Linked DNA regions of Homo sapiens. The protein of the gene in region 2 purifies or fractionates together with the protein of the main gene of each other region. This does not show direct contact. Each region holds a gene or a part of one and is shown on either strand. Other genes may lie near its edges. The genes, in order: OGA, RIDA and ACOX1.

Evidence for each region.
Region 1: the proteins of RIDA (region 2) and OGA purify together in Homo sapiens (affinity purification with mass spectrometry; 2 studies listed by BioGRID and IntAct, with this or other methods). This does not show direct contact.
Region 3: the proteins of RIDA (region 2) and ACOX1 purify together in Homo sapiens (affinity purification with mass spectrometry; 2 studies listed by BioGRID and IntAct, with this or other methods). This does not show direct contact.

Annotation. Positions count from the first base shown.
Region 1 is NC_000010.11:101,801,346-101,808,456, forward strand, and holds part of OGA (protein O-GlcNAcase), read right to left. Parts: intron 6,557-7,111; coding exon 6,385-6,556; intron 4,799-6,384; coding exon 4,700-4,798; intron 2,675-4,699; coding exon 2,390-2,674; intron 1-2,389.
Region 2 is NC_000008.11:98,107,078-98,114,188, forward strand, and holds part of RIDA (2-iminobutanoate/2-iminopropanoate deaminase), read right to left. Parts: intron 1,675-7,111; coding exon 1,569-1,674; intron 1-1,568. UniProt on the Homo sapiens protein: Catalyzes the hydrolytic deamination of enamine/imine intermediates that form during the course of normal metabolism. May facilitate the release of ammonia from these potentially toxic reactive metabolites, reducing their impact on cellular components.
Region 3 is NC_000017.11:75,941,098-75,948,208, forward strand, and holds the end of ACOX1 (peroxisomal acyl-coenzyme A oxidase 1), read right to left. Parts: intron 5,699-7,111; coding exon 5,651-5,698; 3' UTR 410-5,650; downstream 1-409. UniProt on the Homo sapiens protein: Involved in the initial and rate-limiting step of peroxisomal beta-oxidation of straight-chain saturated and unsaturated very-long-chain fatty acids.

The DNA.
Region 1 (7,111 bases), on a different chromosome or scaffold from region 2:
CGGGCCATTGCACTCCAGCCTGAGCAACAAGAGCAAGACTCCGTCTCAGAAAAAAAAAAAAAAAAGAGATAATCGACAGAGACCCACAAATTAGCACACATAAGGCAACAAAGCTCTGAGCCAGGATAGTGGTAGAGAAAATTAAGTCTGAATTTTTTGATTTTGTACTTAAAAACTCTCTATTCTTAGCTTTCCTTAATATTTCCTACGTATGTCCCAGGTTTGGATAGTGTCTGCCACCCTTAGTATGTTCCTTGCTGTGCCTTAAAAGATGTAGGAGTTAAGTGCCATGTACGCTGACAGCATTTAAATTATATTCCCAATTTGTTTTTTATTGAGGGGAGGAGGATGACAATGACTGAGCCAAACAAAAGGGAGACATTAATTCAATAAACAATTCAAAGCAGAGGTATGGAATTGAGAAACAGATGACAACTATTAATATTACTACATACTATCATGACACTTCAGTAGCCAAAATGGGCCAAAATTCAGGGAACTTCAAAAGTTCAGTGTTCAGGCTGGGCACAGTGGCTCACGCCTGTAATCCCAGAACTCTGGGAGGCAGAGGCAGGCAGATCACCAGGTCAGGAGTTCGAGACCAGCCTGACCAACATGGTGAAACCCTGTCTCTACTAAAACTATAAAAATCAGCCAGATGGGGTGGTGTGCGCCAGTAATCCCAGCTACTCAGGAGGCTGAGGCCAGAGACTCGCTTGAACCAGGGAGGCAGAGGTTGCAATGAGCCAAGATCGCGCCACTGCACTCCAGCCTGGGCAACAGAGCGAGGCTCTGTCTCAAAGAAAAAAAAAAATTTTCAGTGTTCAGTGTTTTTAACCTCCAGCCCACAAACCTTTAACGCCCAGCAAACTCTCCTCATACTTTGATCCAGCTTAAAAGTCTGTGAAATCTCTTAGCAAAAATAATCACTCTCTCCCGTGTTCACACAGCACTTTATAAATTAAACTATTACAACACTTATCACACTATAGTACAATTGCCTATAAGCCTTACCCAACACTAGACTGTTTCTCAAAAGTAGGAATGGCTGGGCGCGATGGCTCACGCCTGTAATCCCAGCACTTTGGGAAGCCCAGGAGGGCGGATCACCTGAGGTCAGGAGTTCAAGACCAGCCTGACATGGAGAAACCCCGTCTCTACTAAAAATACAAAATTAGCCAGGCATGGTGGCGCATGCCTGTAATCCCAGCTACTCGGGAGGCTGAGACAGGAGAATCACTTGAACCTGGGAGGCGGAGGTTGCAGGGAGCTGAGATTGCGCCACTGCACTCCAGCCTGGGCAACAAGAGCAAGACTCCATCTCAAAAAGAAAAAAAAAAAACTACTTTATTCTTTGCCCCCTCAGTGCCCATGAACATGCATCTGCCCCATGACAGATTATTTAAATGTAAATAATTATCAAGCACCTTACTTAGAACTCTATTAATTAGAGATTTTTCATAAATTAAAAATTAGTAAGCCAATGTCTAAAATAAGACTGTATTCCATTCGGCCAGGCAGGGTGGCTCATGCCTGTAATCCCAGCACTCTGGGAGGCCGAGGCAGGTGGATCACCTAAGGTCAGGAGTTCGAGACCAGTCTGGCCAAGATGGTGAAACCCTGTCTCTACTTTAAAAAAAAAAAAAAAAAAAAAAAAAAGCCGGGTGTGCCTGCAATCCCAGCTACTCGGGAGGCTGAGGCTGGAGAATCGCTTGAACCTGGGAAGCAGAGGTTGCAGCGAGCTGAGATTGCGCCACTGCACTCCAGCCTGGGCGATGGAGCAAAACTCCATCTCAAAAAAAAAAAAAAAGAGTATGTTCCATAAAAGATAAATGTAAGCTGAATCTAAATGATCTAAGTGACTCAAGAGTATCTAGTTATCTAAAATATCCTTTTCAATAAAATTGCCTGAAAATACATTTTATCCGAATGATTCTAGAGATAATGGAAACACTTAAAAGACTGTCTCCTCTAGTACTCAGACTTCAAAGACTGAACCATATTTTATTTTTATTTATTTCATAGGATTTTCATCTGTTGTCCAGGCTGGAGTGCATTTCCTGGGATTATAAGCGAGCCACCACGCTGCTTCTGAATCATACTAAAAAAAAAAAAAACAAAAAAAAAAAAACTAAGGCAAAGAGGTTAAGTGACTTGTCCAAAGACACTCAACCTTTCTTCTATCATATACATCTTCATCAACAGAATGAAACAACATACCATAATAAAACCACTTGGTTTTGTTTCCTCCTTAGTAAAACAAAATACGTTTTTAAAAAAATAAATAAAACTGTTTAAGTTGTGATGACAAAGGAATGCATACTTTCCACTGGCTCTAGTTAACCCCAGCTCTCCTCCCAAGGTGAAAGATCAAGTACAGGCTACTTACTCATCACTACATCTTTTCTCACTCCATTCATGTTTGATTTGTACCAGGTGGCAAGGGTGTGGATAGCAACGTAGTTGGCTTCAAATTCACAATTTGGATTAGTGAGGACTCCTTTTAACCGTGGGATGAGTTCTGTGGATCTTCCTTTGTACGGGCCCAGAAACAGTCTCTTCTGATCATAATCATTAGCATGAATGTTATCCCAGATTACTGGAGCTCTCTTAATAATCTTAGAAACCTCTTCGATGGACTCTACTGGAATTTCTTTAGAAACAACTTTGGGACCTAGAAATAACGACAACCGTTCGTTAAAAGAATCATGGTTCTTGGCTAGACGCATTGGCTCATAACTGTAATCCCAGCACTCTGGGAGGCAGAGGTGGGCAGATCATTTGAGCCCAGGAGTTCGGACCAGCCTGGGCAACACAGCGAGACCCTATCTTTTTATTTTAAATTAAAAAATATATTTAAAAAAAAGAATCATGGTTCTTTAAAATATACTGCATATATAACTTTTTATTGTTTTCCTTACGTGTACTTTTTTTTTTTTTTTTTTGAGACAGAGTCTCGCTGTGTCGCCCAGGCTGGAGTACAGTGGTGTGATCTCGGCTCACTGTAAGCTCCGCCTCCTGGATTCACACCATTCTCCTGCTTCAGCCTCCTGAGTAGCTGGGACTACAGGCGCCCTCCACCACGCCTGGCTAATTTTTTGTATTTTTTAGTAGAGATGGGGTTTCACTGTGTTAGCCAGGATGGTCTCGATCTCCTCACCCTGTGATCCGCCTGCCTCGGCCTCCCAAAGTGCTGGGATTACAGGCGTGAGCCACTGCGCCTGGCCCCTTACATGTACATTTTATAACAACGTTTCTTTTTCTGAGACAGGGTCTCCTCTGTTACCCAGGCTGAAGTGCAATGGAGTAATCATGGCTCACTGCAGCCTTGAGCTCCTGAGCTCAAGCAATCCTCTCACCTCAGCCTCCCAAGTAGCTGGGACTACAGGTGTGCCCCACCATGTCACAGTAATTTAAAATTTTTTTGTACAGATAAGGGCTTGCTATGTTGCCCAGGCTAATCTTAAACTCCTGGCCTCAAGCGATCCTCCTACCTCAACTCAAGCCTCCCACAGCACTGGGATTACAGGCACGAACCAATGCACCCAGCCACAATTTTTCTTTTGAAAACACAACATGTCTTTTACTGAGCTTTATTTTTTTCGTTTTATAAAATAGAAGAGTTTCCTAACGCTGCTTAAGGATGGGATCAATACCTTTTAGCCCAATTCCCTATAAATCTTTATTATTTATTAACTGAATTTTTTTTGAGACAGGGTCTCATTCTGTTGCTCAGGCTGGAGTGCAGTGGCATGATCACAGCTCACTGCAGCCTCTACCTCCCGGGCTCAAGTGATCCTTCCACCTCAGCCCCCTAAGTAGCTGGGACTACAGGTGTGCACCAGCCCACCTGGCTAAGTTTTTTATTTTTTCTACAGTCTCTCTATGTTGTCTAAGCTGGTCTTGAACTCCTGGGGGCTTCCACCTCAGGCTCCCCACTCAGGCTCCCCAACCATGATAGATGTTTTTTCATATTAAGAGAATATGTAAACTTTGTAAAAGAAAGCGTATTTTAACAAGTTCTCTGGGCCAGGTGCAGTGGGTCACATGTGTAATCCCAGCACTTTGGGAGGCCGAAGTGGGCAGATCACCTGAGGTCGGGAGTTTGAGACCAGCCTGGCTAACATGGAGAAACCCCGTCTCTACTAGAAATACAAAAATTAGCTGGGTGTGGTGGCGTGTGCCTGTAATCCCAGCTACTTGGGAGGCTGAGTCAGGAGAATTGCTTGAACCCGGGAGGCAGAGTTTGCAGGGAGCTGAGATTGTGCCACTGCACTCCAGCCTGGGCAACAAGAGCAATGCTCTGTCTCAAAAAAAAAAAAAAAAAAGGCCAGGCGTGGTGGCTCACGCCTGTAATCCCAGCACTTTGGGAGGCCAAGGCGGGTGGATCACGAGGTCAGGAGATCGAGACCATCCTGGCTAACATGGTGAAACCCTGTCTCTACTAAAAATACAAAAAATTAGCCAGGCGTGGTGGCGGGTGCCTGTAGTCCCAGCTACTCGGGAGGCTGAGGCAGGAGAATGGTGTGAACCTGGGAGGCGGAGCGTGCAGTGAGCCGAGATCATGCCACTGGACTCCATCCTGGGCGACAGAGTGAGACTCCGTCTCAAAAAAAAAAGTATTCAATTAACAAGAACAAGCAATTTCTGCAAGTCCTACTTAATTCAACTTTGACTGTATAAATCTTAAAAGACTTACCTGTCCAAAGCACTTCAATTCCAGGTAGAAGCTTTTCACCCACAGTCCTTAAATATGGAGACTGAGACACATTTGGATAACAGAAAGTGCCACAGTATTCTAAATGTAGGGAGAAAAGTAAAAAAGTCAGAATTAAAATGCTCATGGGTTTTCTCTTTGTTTGTTTGTTTTCTTTGAGACGGAGTCTCACTCTTGATGCCCAGGCTAGAGTGCAGTGGCACGATCTCGGCTCACTGCAACCTCTGCCTCCTGGGCTCAAGCAATTCTCCTGCCTCAGCCTCCCAAGCAGCTGGGACTACAGGCGCACGCCGCCACGCCCGGCTAATTTTTTTTTGTATTTTAGTAGAGATGGGGTTTCACCATGCTGCCCAGGTTGGTCGCAAACTCCTGAGCTCAGGCAATCCGCCCGCCTTGGCCTCCCAAAAGGCCCATGGGTTTTTGAATGTGGAAAAAATGTCTGCCAATTCTAAATTATTTTCATCTAAATGATAAAAGGCCTCCTACAAGGAACTAAAGTGGGCAGTTCATTTAAGAAATTCATAAAATCTGGTATTTTTCCTCCAACAGTAGTACAGATCAATTCTTACGATACTACAGTTACTAGAAATACAAGTTTACTAAAAAAACAAGAACTGCAGCATTTTCTACAGAATTCTGAATTGCCTACTTTTCTCAGTTACAATTAAACGCCAAACAGAATGAATTGATAATATCATAATAGAACTAATACAAGAATATGCCAATGGCAGCTGGGCACAGTGGCTCACACCTGCAATCCCAGCATTTTGGGAGGCTGAAGCGGGTGGATCACTTGAGCCCAAGAGTTCGACACTAGCCTGGGCAATATGGCGAAACCCCGTCTCTACCAAAAATATAAAAATTAGCCAGTTTTATAGCCCGGTCTCTAAATAAATAATACAAACTTAAAAGTAAAATTTAAAAAAAATTTTTTTAAAGGCATATACCAATGGCTATTAGTACTCAACTGCAACTTAAACTGTAACTTGCAGCTAATTAATTCCCAGTATAATCTTAAAACTTCTGGGTACTAATGTAGTACTCAACTAAAATAAGGTTCTCGGCTCACAATACACACAAAGAAAGTTAAATAATTTAATCTAAAATTCTTCCTGAACAAGGAAGTGTGGGGAAAACTTCCTGTAAGTTGAATTTTGAGAAGCAACTAAGAGACTAAAATATTTTCAATGAAAGAAACCAGAGGGGCAAAAAGAAAGGAAAACGGGAAAAACTGTTAAGCTTTCTATGCTGACTACTTGAAATAAGAGCCCAGATGGGAGTGGGAGGAGTGCAAAAAGGGACAGATATGCATGGGCAGAAAAAGGGGACAAGTAGGAGGAAATGAGAAGTGACTAAGGTAAAAGCAATGTAATTTGGTTTTTCTCCAGTTTTCATTTCAATACTATCCCTCTTTTAATATTGACAATGTAATGTTCATATACTTCCAGTACTTAAAAATACATAAAAATCTTTTGCCTAGTCAGTTGTCATTTATTAGTTCCTAAAATTTCTCCAATTTAGGATCTTGAAAAATGTCTTCTAAAAAAAGATTCCTACTTTTACACACCAAAGGAGGAGGGAAGTGGAGAGAGAATGGGGCCCATGGTCCTTTATAAGTTATATATTCCAAGAAGACTAGTTAAATGTAAAGCCATTATATACAATACCTGTGGGACAGAAGAGGAAAGTTTCTGGCTCTCCTAGGTACTGATAGATTTCATTTGTGATGGAGACTTGGGCATGAGCAAAAGAACTGAATACCTCTTTGTCTGCTGCACACATATTATGGTCTATATCATCAAAAAGCAAAGCAAATGATCTGCACCCAAACTGAGAAACCTAGGAGAAAAAAAAAAAAAAGAATCAAGAGTAAAAAAATTAAGAATTCCAAACATTACAGCGTTAACAGTTATACTTAAAATCCAGTATTTTCCTTACTAGAATGTTCAAAGACAGATTTATTGTTTTTACATTTTCAATTAAAAAATCGTAAGTTAAACAGTTTTGGGACCCATTTCTCATTTGGGTTTGAATGCACTACAGGCTGAGTATTCCTTATCTGAAATGCTTGGGACCAAAAATGTTTTGGATTTTCATTTTTGTTTTTTCCTGGATTTTGGAATATCTGTATTATATTCAGCATCCCTAACCTGAAAATCCAAAATCTGAAATGCTCCAATGAGCATTTCCTTTGAATTTTATGGAGCTCAAAGAGTTTCATATTTTGGAACATTTCAGATTTCTGAATTAGGGATACTCAACTTATATGACAATATGATCCAACAAAGTGGCCTAGCCTCCTAGTCCTCATGGGCTGCTGCTGATTGTAGAAGACCCAACAAAGTCAGAAAAATACAGAAACATGAGTAAGTAACCTTAAGACATGAAAAAGCC
Region 2 (7,111 bases):
ACATGGTAGCATACTGTGCATGTTGTTCTGCATCTTGGTTTTATTACCATGGAACAATTTACCTCGGAGATCTTTCCACATTACTTTAGTTGTATTGATCTAGCATAATTTATTCAACCAGTTCTTTATGAGTGGATATTTAGGTTTTTAAAAATCTTTCAGCTAGGCCGGGTGTGGAGGCTCATGCCTGTAATCTCAGCACTTTGGGAGGCTGAGGTGGGTGGATCATGAGGTCAGGAGATCGAGACCATCCTGGCTAGCACGGTAAAACCCCGTCTCTACTAAAAATACAAAAAATAAGCCAGGTGTGGTGGCGTGTGCCTGTAGTCCCAGTTACTTGGGAGGCTGAGGCAAGAGAATTGCTTGAACCTGGAAGACAGAGGTTGCAGTGAGCTGAGATCACGACACTGCACTCCAGCCTGGGCGACAGAGCAAGGCTGTCTCAAGAAACAAAACAAAACAAAACAAACTTTCAGCATTATATGACTCAGTAAATGCAGTAAATTATAGTTTATTGTTTTATTTTATTTTATTTTTTGAGACAGTGTCTTGCTCTGTGTCCCAGGCAGGAGTGCAGTGGCACGATCTTGGCTTCCTGCAACTTCCACCTCCCAGGTTTAAGCGATTCTTCTGCATCAGCCTCCTGAGTAACTGGGACTACAGGCATGTGCCACCTGACTGGGTTACTTTTTTTTTCTATTTTTTTTTTGAGACAGGGTTCTTGCTCTGTTGCCCAGGCTAGAGTGGAGTGGCACAATCTCAGCTCACTGCAACCTCCGCCTTCCGGGTTCAAACGATTCTCATGCCTTAGCCTCCCGAGTAGCTGGGACTACAGGCACATGCCACCACACCTGGCTAATTTTTGTATTTTCAGTAGAGACGGGGTTTCACCATGTTGGCCAGGCTGGTCTTGAACTCCTGACCTCAGGTGATCTGCCCGCCTCGGCCTCCCAAAGTGCTGGGATTACAGGTGTGAGCCATTGTGCCTGGCCTCCCCCAACTAATTTTTGTATTTTTAGTAGAGATGGGGTTTCACCATGTTGTCTAGGCTAGTCTTGAACTCCTGACCTCAAGTGATCTGCCAGCCTCGGCCTCCCAAAGTGCTAGGATTACAGGTGTGAGCCACATCGTGCCTGGCCTAAATTATGGTTTAATTATATTTATTGGATTAAAATTATATTCCCCATTCTTATTTTTAAAAATGTTGACTTTTTACTTCTGTGGTGGTAATTTTTTTTTTTTTTTGAAGAGGGGCAGGTCAGTGGCCCTGAGAAGAAAATTTCCCAATCCATGTGGAAGTGGCAACATGTCATCTGACGTCAATAATTCAGGTTTAAGGTCACCTTAGTGTTAAGGAGGTGGAATCTCTCTTTTGGTTGTTAGATGATTCATGATCCATCAAATTTCCAACTCTTAGATCAAAAACTATGTTAAATCAAGCAGTAAGTAGTTTAAAAAACATTTATCTGTTAATCTCTATAAAACAAATCAGGCAAGTGGATTCTTAATGCTCTTCAACATTAAAAAGGTAGTAGAAAAGGGAACCTTAAATGTGGAAAATAACTTACTTGTTTAGCTTCTTCTGCTACCCCTCCTGACACAAGCTGTCCACTTGAAGGGTCCATGCCTATCTGTCCTGAAATGTAAATGGTCCTGTCGACTAATACAGCTTGACTGCAATAAACAGAAAGCTAGTGTATTTATGTAAGTATAAAACATAAAATTCAATGCTAGAAGACTTTTTTGATAGGACAGAGAAGTATAAATTGTAAAAAAAAAAAAACAGATACATTGGACTTCATGAAAATTGAAAACTTTTGTTTATCAAAGATATCTTTAAGAAAATGAAAAGGGGCTGGGTGCTGTAATCCTAGTGCTTTGGGAGGGTGAAGCAGGAGGATCGCTTGGGACCAGGAGTTTGAGATCAGCCTGGGCAACCACTCAGTCTCTACAAAAAACAATAAAAAACAGCCAAGTATGGTGACGCACACCCGTAGTCCCAGCTACTCAGGAGGCTAGGGTGATTGAATTGCTTGAGCCCAGGAGTTGAAGGCTGAAGTGAGCCATGAGTATACCACTGCGCTCCAGCCTCAGTGGCACTGAGTAACAGAGAAAGACCCAAAATAAAAAAAGGGGTCGGGGGAAGAAAAGGCAAGTCATAGATTGGGAGAAAAATATTTGCAAAACATATACCTAATAAAGTACCTATATCCAGAATATAAGAAGAACTCTTAAAAGTCAATAATGTGAAGACAAACCCAATAAAATATGAGCAAATGATACTTCACAAAAGAAAATATACAAAGAGTTAGAGTACATGAAATTTGCTCAACATTAGTAGTCATTAGAGAAATGCAAAGCAAAACCACACACTAAGACATCACTGATAAAGTAAGCATTGGCAATGATGGGGAGCAACCCTCATACATTGTCGGTAGTAATGCAAAATGGTACAGCCACTTTAGAAAATAGTTTGGCAGTTTCTTTAAAAATTTAAACATATATTTAACATACAACCCAGCAAACTCTTCTTTTAGAGACAGGATCTTGCTCTGTCACCCAGGCTGAAGTGCAGTGGTAGGATGTTGGCTCACTGAAGCCTTGACCTCCCAGGCCCAAGTGATCCTCCCATCTCAGCCTCCTAAGTAGCTGAGACTAAAGGTGTGCACCACCATGCCTGGCTAATTTTTTATTTTATTATTTACTTATTTTTATTTTTTGTAGAGATGAGGTCTTGCTATGTTGCCTAGGCTGGTCTCAAACTCCTGGACTCAAGTGATCCTCCTGCCTTGGCCTCCCAAAGTGCTGGGATTACAGGCTTGAGCCTCAACTCAGCAATTTCTTTCCTAGGCAACTATCCAAGAGAAATGAAAACATATGTCCAAAGAGTTTACGTGAATGTTCAGAATAGCATTATTTATAGCAAAAAAGCAAGACACACACACATGCACCCACTGATAGATCCAACAAAGGACTATATATTGTCTTATTTCACTTAAATGAAACCTTAGAAAAGAAAATAGCAGCAGCAGATTATTAATTGTTGTCTAGGGCCAGGGGTGATCATAAATGGGTACAAGGGAATTTTTTGGGAGTGATAGAAATATTCTAAAATTTGACTATTATAGTGGATGCATGATTCTATACATTTACTAAAACTCATGGAACACTACACTTAATTAAAATGGGTGACTTGTTTTTTTGAGATGGAGTCTCACTCTGTCACCCAGGCTGGAGTGCAGTGGCACAATCTTGGCTCACTGCAACCTCCGCCTCCCGGGTTCAAACAATTCTGCCTCAGCCTCCCAAGTAGCTGGGATTACAGGTGTGAGCCACCACGCCCAGCTAATTTTTGCATTTTTAGTAGAGATGGGGTTTTGCCATGTTGGCCAGGCTGGTCTTGAACTCCTGACCTCAGGTGATCCGCCTGCCTCCGCTTCCCAAAGTGCTGGGATTACAGTCGTGGGCCACCACACCCAGCCATTAAAATGGGTAACTTTTATAAGTAACTTATACCTCAATATAGCTGTAAAGCAAAAAAATGCAATTTCAAGAGCACTTTTAAAAACATAAGTAGTCATCTTCAGACAAGATTAGTCACTGCTTATTGGAGGATCAATTAAGGATATACTTTTGAGGGTCCACTTCTGATATGGCTTGGCTGTGTCCTTGCCCAAACCTCATCTGGAATTGTAATGCCCATAATCCCCACATGTTGAGAGTAGGACCTGGTGGGAGGTGACTGGACCATGGGGGCAGTTTCCCCCATGCTGTTCTCATGATAGTGAGTTCTCACGTGATCTAACAGTTTTATAAGTGTCTGACAGTTCCTCCTACACATGTACACTCTCTCTTGCTTGCCATCATATACGATGTGCCTCTTCCCCTTCCGCCATTATTGTAAGTTTCTTGAGGCCTCCCCAGCCATGTGGAACAGTGAGTCAATTAAGCCTCTTTATAAATACTCGGGTTGTATCTTTATAGCAGTGTGGAAACGAACTAATACAACTTCATTTCTGCAAAGTGCTTACTTCTGTAACTGACTTTTTCTGTTATGAGGATGCTAAATTTCAGAAGTAGGATAAAATCACAGGAAAAAGAAAACAATACATTGATACCTGAAAAAAAGCCAAACAAGTCTACTTTTTATAGGAATGATATTAATTTTGGGATGAAGAAAGCCTATCTGTTTTTTTAAAATGTTGAAGAAAGAAGACTTAATGTAATTTTAATTTAGAAGTGAAATGTGGCAGGGCATGGTGGCTCATGCCTATAATCCCAGCACTTTGGGAGGCTGAGGCGGGCAGACCACTTGAGGCCAGGAGTTCAAGGCCAGCCTTGCCAACATGGGGAAATCCTGTCTCTACTAAAAAACACAAAAATTAGCCAGTGGTGGTGCACACCTGTAATTCCAGCTACTTGGGAGGCTGAGGCATGAGAATCACTTGAACCTGGGAGGTGGAGGTTGTAGTAAGCCAAGATCACGTTACTGTACTCCAGCCTGGGCAACAGAGCAAGACTCTGTGTCAAAAAAAAAAAAAAAGAAGTGAAATTTGTTTTAAAATTTCTATGCTTATTTATAAATTTAAGATAGTCTCATTTTAATCATCTTCTTTTAGTTCCCTATTCTTCCATTTTCCAACATGCTCCAAACTTTCCTCTTTTATTTCATGAAGTTTTCCTGGTCTTCTTGACCACATCTTTTTTTTCCCTTTATAATTTATTTTTGAATAGGAGTTCATATGGTTCAAAAATCCAGAAAATACACAAAGAATTGCAGTGAAAAGTCTTTCTTCCATTCTTGTTCCCTATTTGCTCAGTTCCCAGCCCAGAACCATTGTTCTTCTTTATGTATTCATCCAGTTTTTTTAATGAACAGATAACCAAAACAAATATATATTTTCTCTCTTCTTTTACATAAAATATGGTATATTAAACATTCTTGTACACTTTGTTTTTTTCACTCAACAGAATATCATGAAGATCTTTCCATAAGTATATGTAGAGTGCTTCCTCATTTTTTTTAACAGCTACATATGTTTTACAATATAGATGTACTTTATTTAATGAGTCACCATTGCTTCTGATATTTTGTTATCATAAATAAAACTATACTAAACACACACACACACACACACACACACACTTTCTCTAAGTAACTAAGCTTTTCTTTCCCCTGGATCCCAGGAGTGCTTTGGTTGTATCTTCCTTATACTATGTACAGGATCCTGCCTCGTGTTGTAACTCATCCTGTTATTATCCTGTCTCCCAAGGTATCTTAGACTCTAAACTCCTTGAGGTCAGGGTAATGTCTTACCATGTCTCTGTAGCTGTGTAGGGTGTAGGTGATTCCTTGCATACAGTAGGCACACTATAACTACTTGCTGATGTTTTGCTCTTTAACCACTTAGTAGCATAAACAATTTTGGTTGTCAGTGAATCTCTTTTTAGCAGGACCTGTTGACTTACAGCAAATGCTTTGGAGAGAGCTAAGGAGGTATGTTTAAACTTGATAACATGATTCAGAAAGTCTAGAAAGTCTTCTCAACTATCTGGCTTTCATACTGGCCCACAAATAGATAACTACTGAGTTTGTTAATTTGTAATCTTTTCTCGGGTTAAATAATACCATCAGTAACACTGTTTTTTATTAACTGTCCTGTGTAGAATTAGGCCGTCTGCCCTAGGTCCTGTGCAAAGTGCCTTCAGCTTTCCCCATATCTGAAACACACTTTAAGACCATATGCATTATTATTTATCAGAAACTTCATGATAGTAAAAAGAAACTCTTTTATTTTCAAAATATAAAAAGCAAGCACTGGAGCTGAGACCATCTGAGCTATGTGAGTTATCTCTTACAGATCTAAAGAGGTTTGTTCATAAGAATAATTGGCTAGTTGACACTTTCTGAGCATAAGAATCCTACTATCCAAAGACAAGTGGTTGGACTTCAGAAAATTTAAAAGTGCACTGTTCTACTACCAGGTTAAAGGGTAATCACACTTTCAAAAGCATTCTAATAATTCTCACATCATAGTCTATACCACACGGGCTACTGCTTCAAAAATTTATAATTATGAGGACGGTGTGCAAAATGCGCAATGCAAAGCAATGCAATGTTGAAATCTTTCAAGGTTCTGTCTGGAAGTATTCCTGAAATGTGCTGAGCTGATTGGCTAATTAGTGACAACACCCCATCCATCCCAATGCCAGGGACTGAAAGTTCAACACATTTGAATTCTTCCTGGAGAGGACCCAGGATTTTCAAAAAGTGTACTCACTACACACTCCACGCACAAAAACTCTTGTTCCCAAAAGGTTCCTAAAACATGTCCAATTAACATAAGTAGTTAGTTGCAGTCTGTTTTTTTTCTTAAACATTAACTATTGAAAATAAGCACCATTTCTAGTCACCTAGTGCACAAGAGGCACAATGTCCTGGAAGTCTCCACACCATGAAGCTGGCTGGTGGCTTTTTTTCTTGTCATACTGGCACATTCATATGATGATTCCCCTCTTTTTAGCTTTCAGCTTTATAAAGACAGTTGACTCCCACCTACCTTCAAGTCAACCAGGAACATTACTGTTATGCTTTCTTTCCTGAACAAAGTCCACAGAGTATCTCTAAATAGGTCAAGGAAGGGGTATGCTCTTTAGCAGGCTCCAGGACAAAGTGTCTCTAATAATCACTTTGATTTGGTTGTGTCCCTCTTGTTTGGAGGTAAAGATGTTTTTCTAAATGCTACCACTGTGTGATTGAGAGAAAGACATTAGGGCAGAAGGAGAAAAAAAATCACAAATTTTTACTTATAATATCCCCTAACTATTCTCACTTTCTTTACCTCCAAATTTCTATCAGAATTACTATCAGAATTCTTTTTAAAAGATCTGATCATGTTCCACCCTGCTTAAAAACATTTAGCCTGGGCAACATGGTAAAACCCCAGCTCTATAAAAAATACAAAAATTATCTGGGCATGGTGGCCTGAGCCTGTAGCCCCAGCTACTTGGGAAGCTGAGGTGGGAGGATGGCTTGAGCCCGGGAGGTTGAGGCGACAATAAGCTGTGATCCCGGCTCCAGCCTGGGTGACACAGCGAAACACTGTCTCAA
Region 3 (7,111 bases), on a different chromosome or scaffold from region 2:
ACTCACCCGCCCTCACAGAGGAGGTGGGGACGCCATGAAGAACTACAGCTCCCAGGGAGCCGCGCGCGGCAGTTGGCGGGGCCGGGCTTCTGCCGGCGGCGGGCACGTTGCTAGGAGCTGCCCCAACGCCTCTCCGGGAAGAGGGCGCCAGGCTCAAAGGCCCTCTTGGGAACTGCCGGGAAGCTTAAAAGTTCCTCCTGCCCACTTCTGAGGGCTGACACGTGGCCGACGCGGAGGCGTGAGAAATGTGTTGATATTGGGAGGTTGACGGGTGAATCCACAAATTCACCGGTGTTTATTCCACACCCCAAAGCTTGAGGGAAGTGACTGACCTGTTTAATGATCCAATCAAAGCTGTATAGCCAGAATGAAACCCAATACTGTCGCCCCACAAAAAGATTAAGTCACATTTTTTCTAGTATGTGCTAATTATGAATTTTATTAAGGTTTATTCAATGTCACAGAGGAAAGAACGGTTTGTAGTTTTGCTTACCCGCAGTGCTGGCAGGTCACAGCTGTCCAACCATGATCCATTCACATGCTCTGGCCCCGTGCCCCTCGTCCTCCCACCCCTACCCCACAGGACACCATTAAGCCAGGGCTGGGTAACAACATATGCTCAATGCATCTTCTCAGGTGAGAACCAAACTCGAGCCACAACAGCAAAGGGGGAAAAAGGTAGCAAAGTAATTATGTGCTCCCAAGGCAGTCATTTAGTTGAATCCATAACTGGAAATAAAAAGGCATTTATGAAGTGTAGTCCGCAGTCTGAATGTGGAAGGTGGAAGATCACACATTTACTAAGAAACACTCAAAACATATTTTGGTTCAGAATTCTAAAAAATCCCGAATTTTCCATGATCTTCCCAAGACAACCAATGACCCACTTAAATTTAAGGCAAAAACACCCTTGAATCTAGGAATGTGCACATATGCAACAGCTAACATCTGGTAACTCTAATAATGTTCCTTATATGTTTCTGTGTTTACTATCATGAACCATAGGAAGAAGTACTGGAAAATTTAGTAAGTGTGGACAGTTAAAAACACTGGCCCGGCACGGTGGCTCACGCCTGTAATCCCAGCACTTTGGGAGGCCGAGGTGGGTGGATCACGAGGTCAGGAGTTCAAGACCAGCCTGGCCAACTTGGTGAAACCCCTGTCTCTACTAAAAATACAAAAAAACTAGACAGGCATGGTGGCAGGCGCTGTAATCCCAGCTTCTCAGGAGGCTGAGGCAGAGAATTGCTTGAACCCGGGAGGCAGAGGTTGCAGTGAGCCAAGATTTCGCCACTGCACTCTACCCTGGGTGAAAGAGCAAGACAACGTCTCAAAAAAAAAAAAAAAAAAAAAAGCAAAACCCCACCATCAATATTTTAAAATAAAAAGTCGTTTTAGTCAATTACAGTGTGACTTGTTCTAATCCTCCAAGAATGGAGTAGTAAAGAAACAGCAGAAATGACTTCCCTGCATTATTTCATGAAAATGATCAAAACCTTTATCTAAGTCAGAACATCAACAAGACTCTTGGTCTCAGGTCATCAGTTTCCTGGCACTCCTCCTCTCTCTAGCTGTAGTAGCAGCTACTGCTTGAAGACAACCTATATATCCCAGGCATACCCTCTACACGTATAAAAAGATGTGCAGGTGTTACAGACCACCTACACCTAATTCACTTCCTTTCTAATAAGATGGATGGAATAACTCGGAAAAGGGAAAGGAGGGATTTTGAGCCGCAGTTGTCTAAAGAATTATTGATTCACAGGGATCTCCAAGATCATGCATTTGAAGAGTTTTATTTCTCCACCCAAAGCCCTGCAGTGAAGAAAATCCAAGAATTAAGATGTAACATGTTGGCTGGGTGAGGTGGCTTGTGGCTTATGCCTGTAATCCCAGCACTTTGGGAAGTGTGGGGGGAGTGGGAGTGCAGATCACCTGGCCAACATGGTGAAACTCCATCTCTGCTCAAAATACAAAAATTAGCCGAGCGTGATGGCAGGTGCCTGTAATCCCAGCTACTCAGGAGGCTGAGGTGGGAGAATCGCTCGAACCCGGGAGGTGAAGATTGCAGTGAAGTCGAGATCGCACCATTGCATTCCCGCCTGGGAGACTCCATCTCAAAAAAAAAAAAAAAAAAATTAACATGTTGGCCCAGTGCAGTAGCTCACTCCTGTAATCCCAACCCTTTGGGAGGCCTGAGGTGGGAGGGTCACCTGAGGCTAGGAGTTCATGACGGGCCCAAGGCAACATAGCCATACCCTATTTCCAAAAATAAAAAAAAATAAAAAATTAGCCAGGTGTGGTGGTGTGCACCAGTAATCCCAGCTTCTCAGAGGAGGCCAAAGCAGGAGGATCACTTGAGCCCAGGAGTTGGTGGCCAAAGTGTGCTACAATCACACCACTGCATTCCAGCCTGGGTGAGAGTGAGACCCTCATGGGGTGGAAAAAAAAGATCTAACATGTTAACTTTAGGAACTATAAAATGCCTTCAGGTGTATGTGATCTGAAATTACAAGTGGTGACTTCTCAGAAAGCATATGAACACGGTGAATGTTGTAATGTTCTGAAGATAAGCTGATACTTAGTAGTGATATGTTCTAAAGACAAGAACATGAGGGCCCCAAAGCCTGTGTCATCAACTCTGCTTTGAGGTCACTAATTTTTAAATACAGAGCATAAAGTAGAACTCCAAACACTTGGGCAAGAAGAAAATCCATTGCAAATAGCCAACACATTTCTATTAAACCTCACATTTTCAATTTTGTATTTGGTTGAGAGTACTTTTTAAAAAAAGGCTTAAATCAATATTATCTAACACACACAAAAAATCTCATTAATTCTCCTCACTCTGGGCCAGATGCTGTGGCTCACACCTATAATCTCAGCACTTTGGGAGGCTGAGGCGAAATGATCGCTTGAGCCCAGGAGTCTGAGACCAGCCTGGGCAACATGGCAAAACCCCGTCTCTACAGAAAAAATAGAACAAATTAGCTGGGCATGGTGGCACGTGCCTGTCGTCCCAGCTACTCAGGAGACTGAGGAGGGAGGACCATTTGAACCCGGGAGGCAGAGGTCACAGTAAGCCAAGATCCCACCACTGCACTCCAGTCTGGGTGACAGTGATACCCTGTCTCAAAAAGATAAAAATAAAATTCCTACTCAGTAATTTTGGAGAAGACAAGGTTAAAATGTATCTTTGTACTTGTGAAAATGGCTTACAAAATTTTGAATCCAACAGACCCAAACTTGTCAGTGGCAGTCTAGTGTGGTAGAGAGAACAAACTGGACTTGCCACTTCCTTTAAGGTACAGCCAACAAATGTGTACCAAGTACTTCCAAGGACTCCTAAAGTGACTGGAGCCACTCACAACTATTGGTACAACTGCAGTAATTACAGCTGATTTACAGCTGTCCACTCAGGCAGGTATCACTCCTTCCTTTTTTGTTCTTAGTGTTCCCTAAATCTAATAAACCTCTATTCTAAATTTCTTCATAATTTAAACCTATGTTTAGTTGTGTGGCATATTTTTTCTCTCTTAATAGTACAAATCAGTGACGTTTACTCTATCTTTATTCTTGATTATATTGAATAAAGTTCAAGACAGAACATTCCAATATTAATAAAAATAGCATCAAATGTCAGATTTAGATTTTTTTTTTGAGACGGAGTCTCGCTCAGCCACCCAGGCTGCAGTGTAGTGGCACCATCTTGGCTCACTGCAACCTCTACCCGCCAAGTTCAAGCGATTATCCTGCCTCAGCCTCCCGAGTAGCTGGGACTACAGGCGCGTGCTACCACCATGCCCAGCTAATTTTTGTATTTTTTTCAGTAGAGACGGGGTTTCACCATGTTGGCCAGGATGGTCTCAAACTCCTGACCTCAGGTGATCCACCCGCTTCGGCCTCCCAAAGTGCTTGGATTACAGGCGTGAGCCACCACGCCTGGCCCCAGATTTAGATTTTAAATAAAACGTGAGGTACTGGGTCAAAGGGGGCTCTGCAGGTCGATGATCTCCTCAAACCTGCAAAGACATCCCATCTATGCAACTGGATTGGGGGGTGTCATTCCAAACACCCTCAGATCCTGCCCAGATATTCATCTGTGAACAAGGTATTTCAACACTAATTTTGAAACAATTCTACATCTAGCAGGTCAGTTTATCATTTTCCAGAATCTGAACTACTGTCAGGATAGACTCAAGTGAGATTAACACAGGGTTAATCTTCAATCTTAACACAATTATCAATTAGTTCTCCCAGTGGAACGATTAAGGCTTTTGTCAACATGTAGCATTTCTGCTGTAACCTATAAGTCTCATATTACCAGTTCCCCAGGATAGATAGATATTATGTCAGGTCCCAAGATAGGAGTTATGTTTCCATGGAATTAAGCCATATTCTCAGGACTGATTCTAGAACAGCTGGTTTCATGAGGCATATGGCGTAGATTAAAAAAAAACAAAACAAAGTGACTTACATTGACTTTAAGAAAAAATTAATTAAGATGTATTTAACCTTTAAGTATAGAATGATTGTATAAATTAGATTTCAACTGAAAGGACAATTAGCGATTCAGAGAAAGCTCCTAGAAATAGACTGAAAACAAAGCCATACATAGAGTAAGAAATAGAACCTATGGAACTTCCATTTTTCTAACTATAGTTTTTTGTTTTTGTTTTTTCCCAGTTGTTAAAAAAAAAACAACTCACAGTTTCAATATTTTCTGAACCAAAAATCAGAACACATGGTTTGTGTCAAAGGGTTTTTCTGTGCTACGTCTGGGAGTGCTGACCTAAGTGACATTTTTTTTTAATGCCAAATACAGTAATCTCCAAGCTTTTAATGGCTTATGCCAAGATGACAGAATATGTGAAATCTGATTGTCCCAGAGTTACACTCTGCACTCCAAAGCTACAACAGTGCCACAGCTGAGAGGTTTCCCTATACTTCCTACTACTGTGACAATTTAGCAATCCTTCAAATGGAAAATTCCTAATTACACGAGACAATGGTCCTACAGTAGGCCCGTGCGGAATAAGTTCCCTCGTTGGAAAAATGCTAGCATGAATAGTTTGATAAATGCAATCCATCAGCAAAGGAGAGCAAGCAGGCAGAGACTGTGCCAAGCAGAAACTCATTCGCATCAAGTTTTCCAATAAGTTTCCTTCCCCCAGTCCCTTTTCTTCAATCCTGCTTTTAAGCCAGGCCCCAGGGTAAGTCTGGTAGAACACTGAGCAGGAAAGCTTGGAAGGGTTCTACACCACTTCAAAAATACCTTTGCTTAAAAACACTTATATAGCCAGTGATTAGCAATTAAAATGTGAAAATAATCAACTACTCAGTAGTTAAATTCTGCTAATTATCAAAAGTCATAGTCTACTGGGATCAGCAGCATTACAAAAGGAAGTCATATCGCATTTCTTAAGCTTTTTCTGAATGGTTTAACAGGTCTCTTTCAGTGTTAATTGCACTTAAAACATCTGCTTTTTTTCATTTAATCTCTGAAATCTGTTCATTTTTTCCCTCCATTTATAAAAAGGGGTCAATTTATCATTTGCTCTATAGCTATTTGAATTCGAAAAAGATTCCACAAAATTTGAGTTGCACACAGGCGCTTTCTGAAGCAGATTAAACTTGTCCTTGTGACACTTCAGAGCTTGGACTGCAGTGACTTCAGGTGCTTGTAAGATTCGTGGACCTGTGGGGAAAGGAGAGAGAAGAACTACTAATAAAGAGTTTGCCATGTTAAATAGTATACTGTTTTTTGTTTTTGTTTTTGTTTTTTTTTTGAGACTGAGTCCTGCTCTGTTGCTCAGGCTGGAGTGCAGTGGCACAATCTTGGCTCACTACAGCCTCTGCCTCCCAGACTCCAGCGATCTTCCCACCTTAGCCTCCCGAGTTGCTAGAACTACAGGTGTGTGCCATGACACCTGGCTGCTATTTGTATTTTTTTGTAGAGATGGGGGTTTACCATGTTGGCCAGGCTGGTCTAGAACTCCTCAATTCAAGTGATCCACCCACCTCAGCCTCCCAAAGTGCTAGGATTACAGGCGTGAGCCACTGTGCCCAGCCTGTGGTTGTTTCTGAAGAGTCCTTATCTTTTAGAGCTATGCATTGAATTATTTATGGATAAAATTATCTGATGTCTTAGTTTTTTTTTTTTTTTTGAAACGGAGCCTCGCTCTTGTTGCCCAGGCTGGAGTGCAATGGCATGGTCTCGGCTCACCGCAACCTCCGCCTCCCAGGCTCAAGCAATTCTCCTGTCTCAGCCTCCCAAGTAGCTGGGATTACAGGCATGCGCCACCACGCCTGGCTAATTTTGTATTTTTAGTAGAAACAAGGTTTCTCCATGTTGGTCAGGCTGGTCTCAAACTCCCGACCTCAGGTGATCCACCTGCCTCGGCCTCCCAGGTGTGCATCACTGAGCCTGGCCCTGATGTCTTAGATTTATTTCAAAATAGTCCCCAGGAGGAGGGGGATGAAGGTTCAGATGAAACACAACTAGCCACGAGTTGATAGTCATTGCTGCTAGACAAAGGGTGTACCAAAGAGCACTACGGAATTCTCTTTTTGTATATTTTATTCTATTTGTGTGTGTGTGTGTGTGTGTATACTTTTTTTTTTTTTTTGAGACAGAGTTTTGCTCTTGTCACCCAGGCTGGAGTGCAATGGCACGAACGTGGCTCACTGCAACCTCCGCCTCCTGGGTTCTCCTGGGTTCAAGCTGAGGCAGGAGAATTCCCGAGTAGCTGGGACTACAGCCGTGCACCATTACTGCCTGGCTGCTTTTTTTGTATTTTTAGTAGAGATTGGGTTTCGCCATTTTAGCCAGGCTAGTCTCGAACTCCTGACCTCAGGTGATCTGCCCACTCGGCCTCCCACAGTGCTGGGATTACAGGTGTGAGCCAACGCACCCGGCCTGTATATATTTTTAAATGTTCAATTCGTTATCAAAAATTGAAATTGATTAAGACCCTGGTTACTGTGGGAACAACCCAGTTCCCTTCTGAACCTGTTGCTCAAATAAAGTGACTGTCAGAAGTGGCCATGGTACTTTCAGAGCTTTCACAGATAAATCCCCTTCGAGAGGCCTTTCCTGCTTCAATATTTA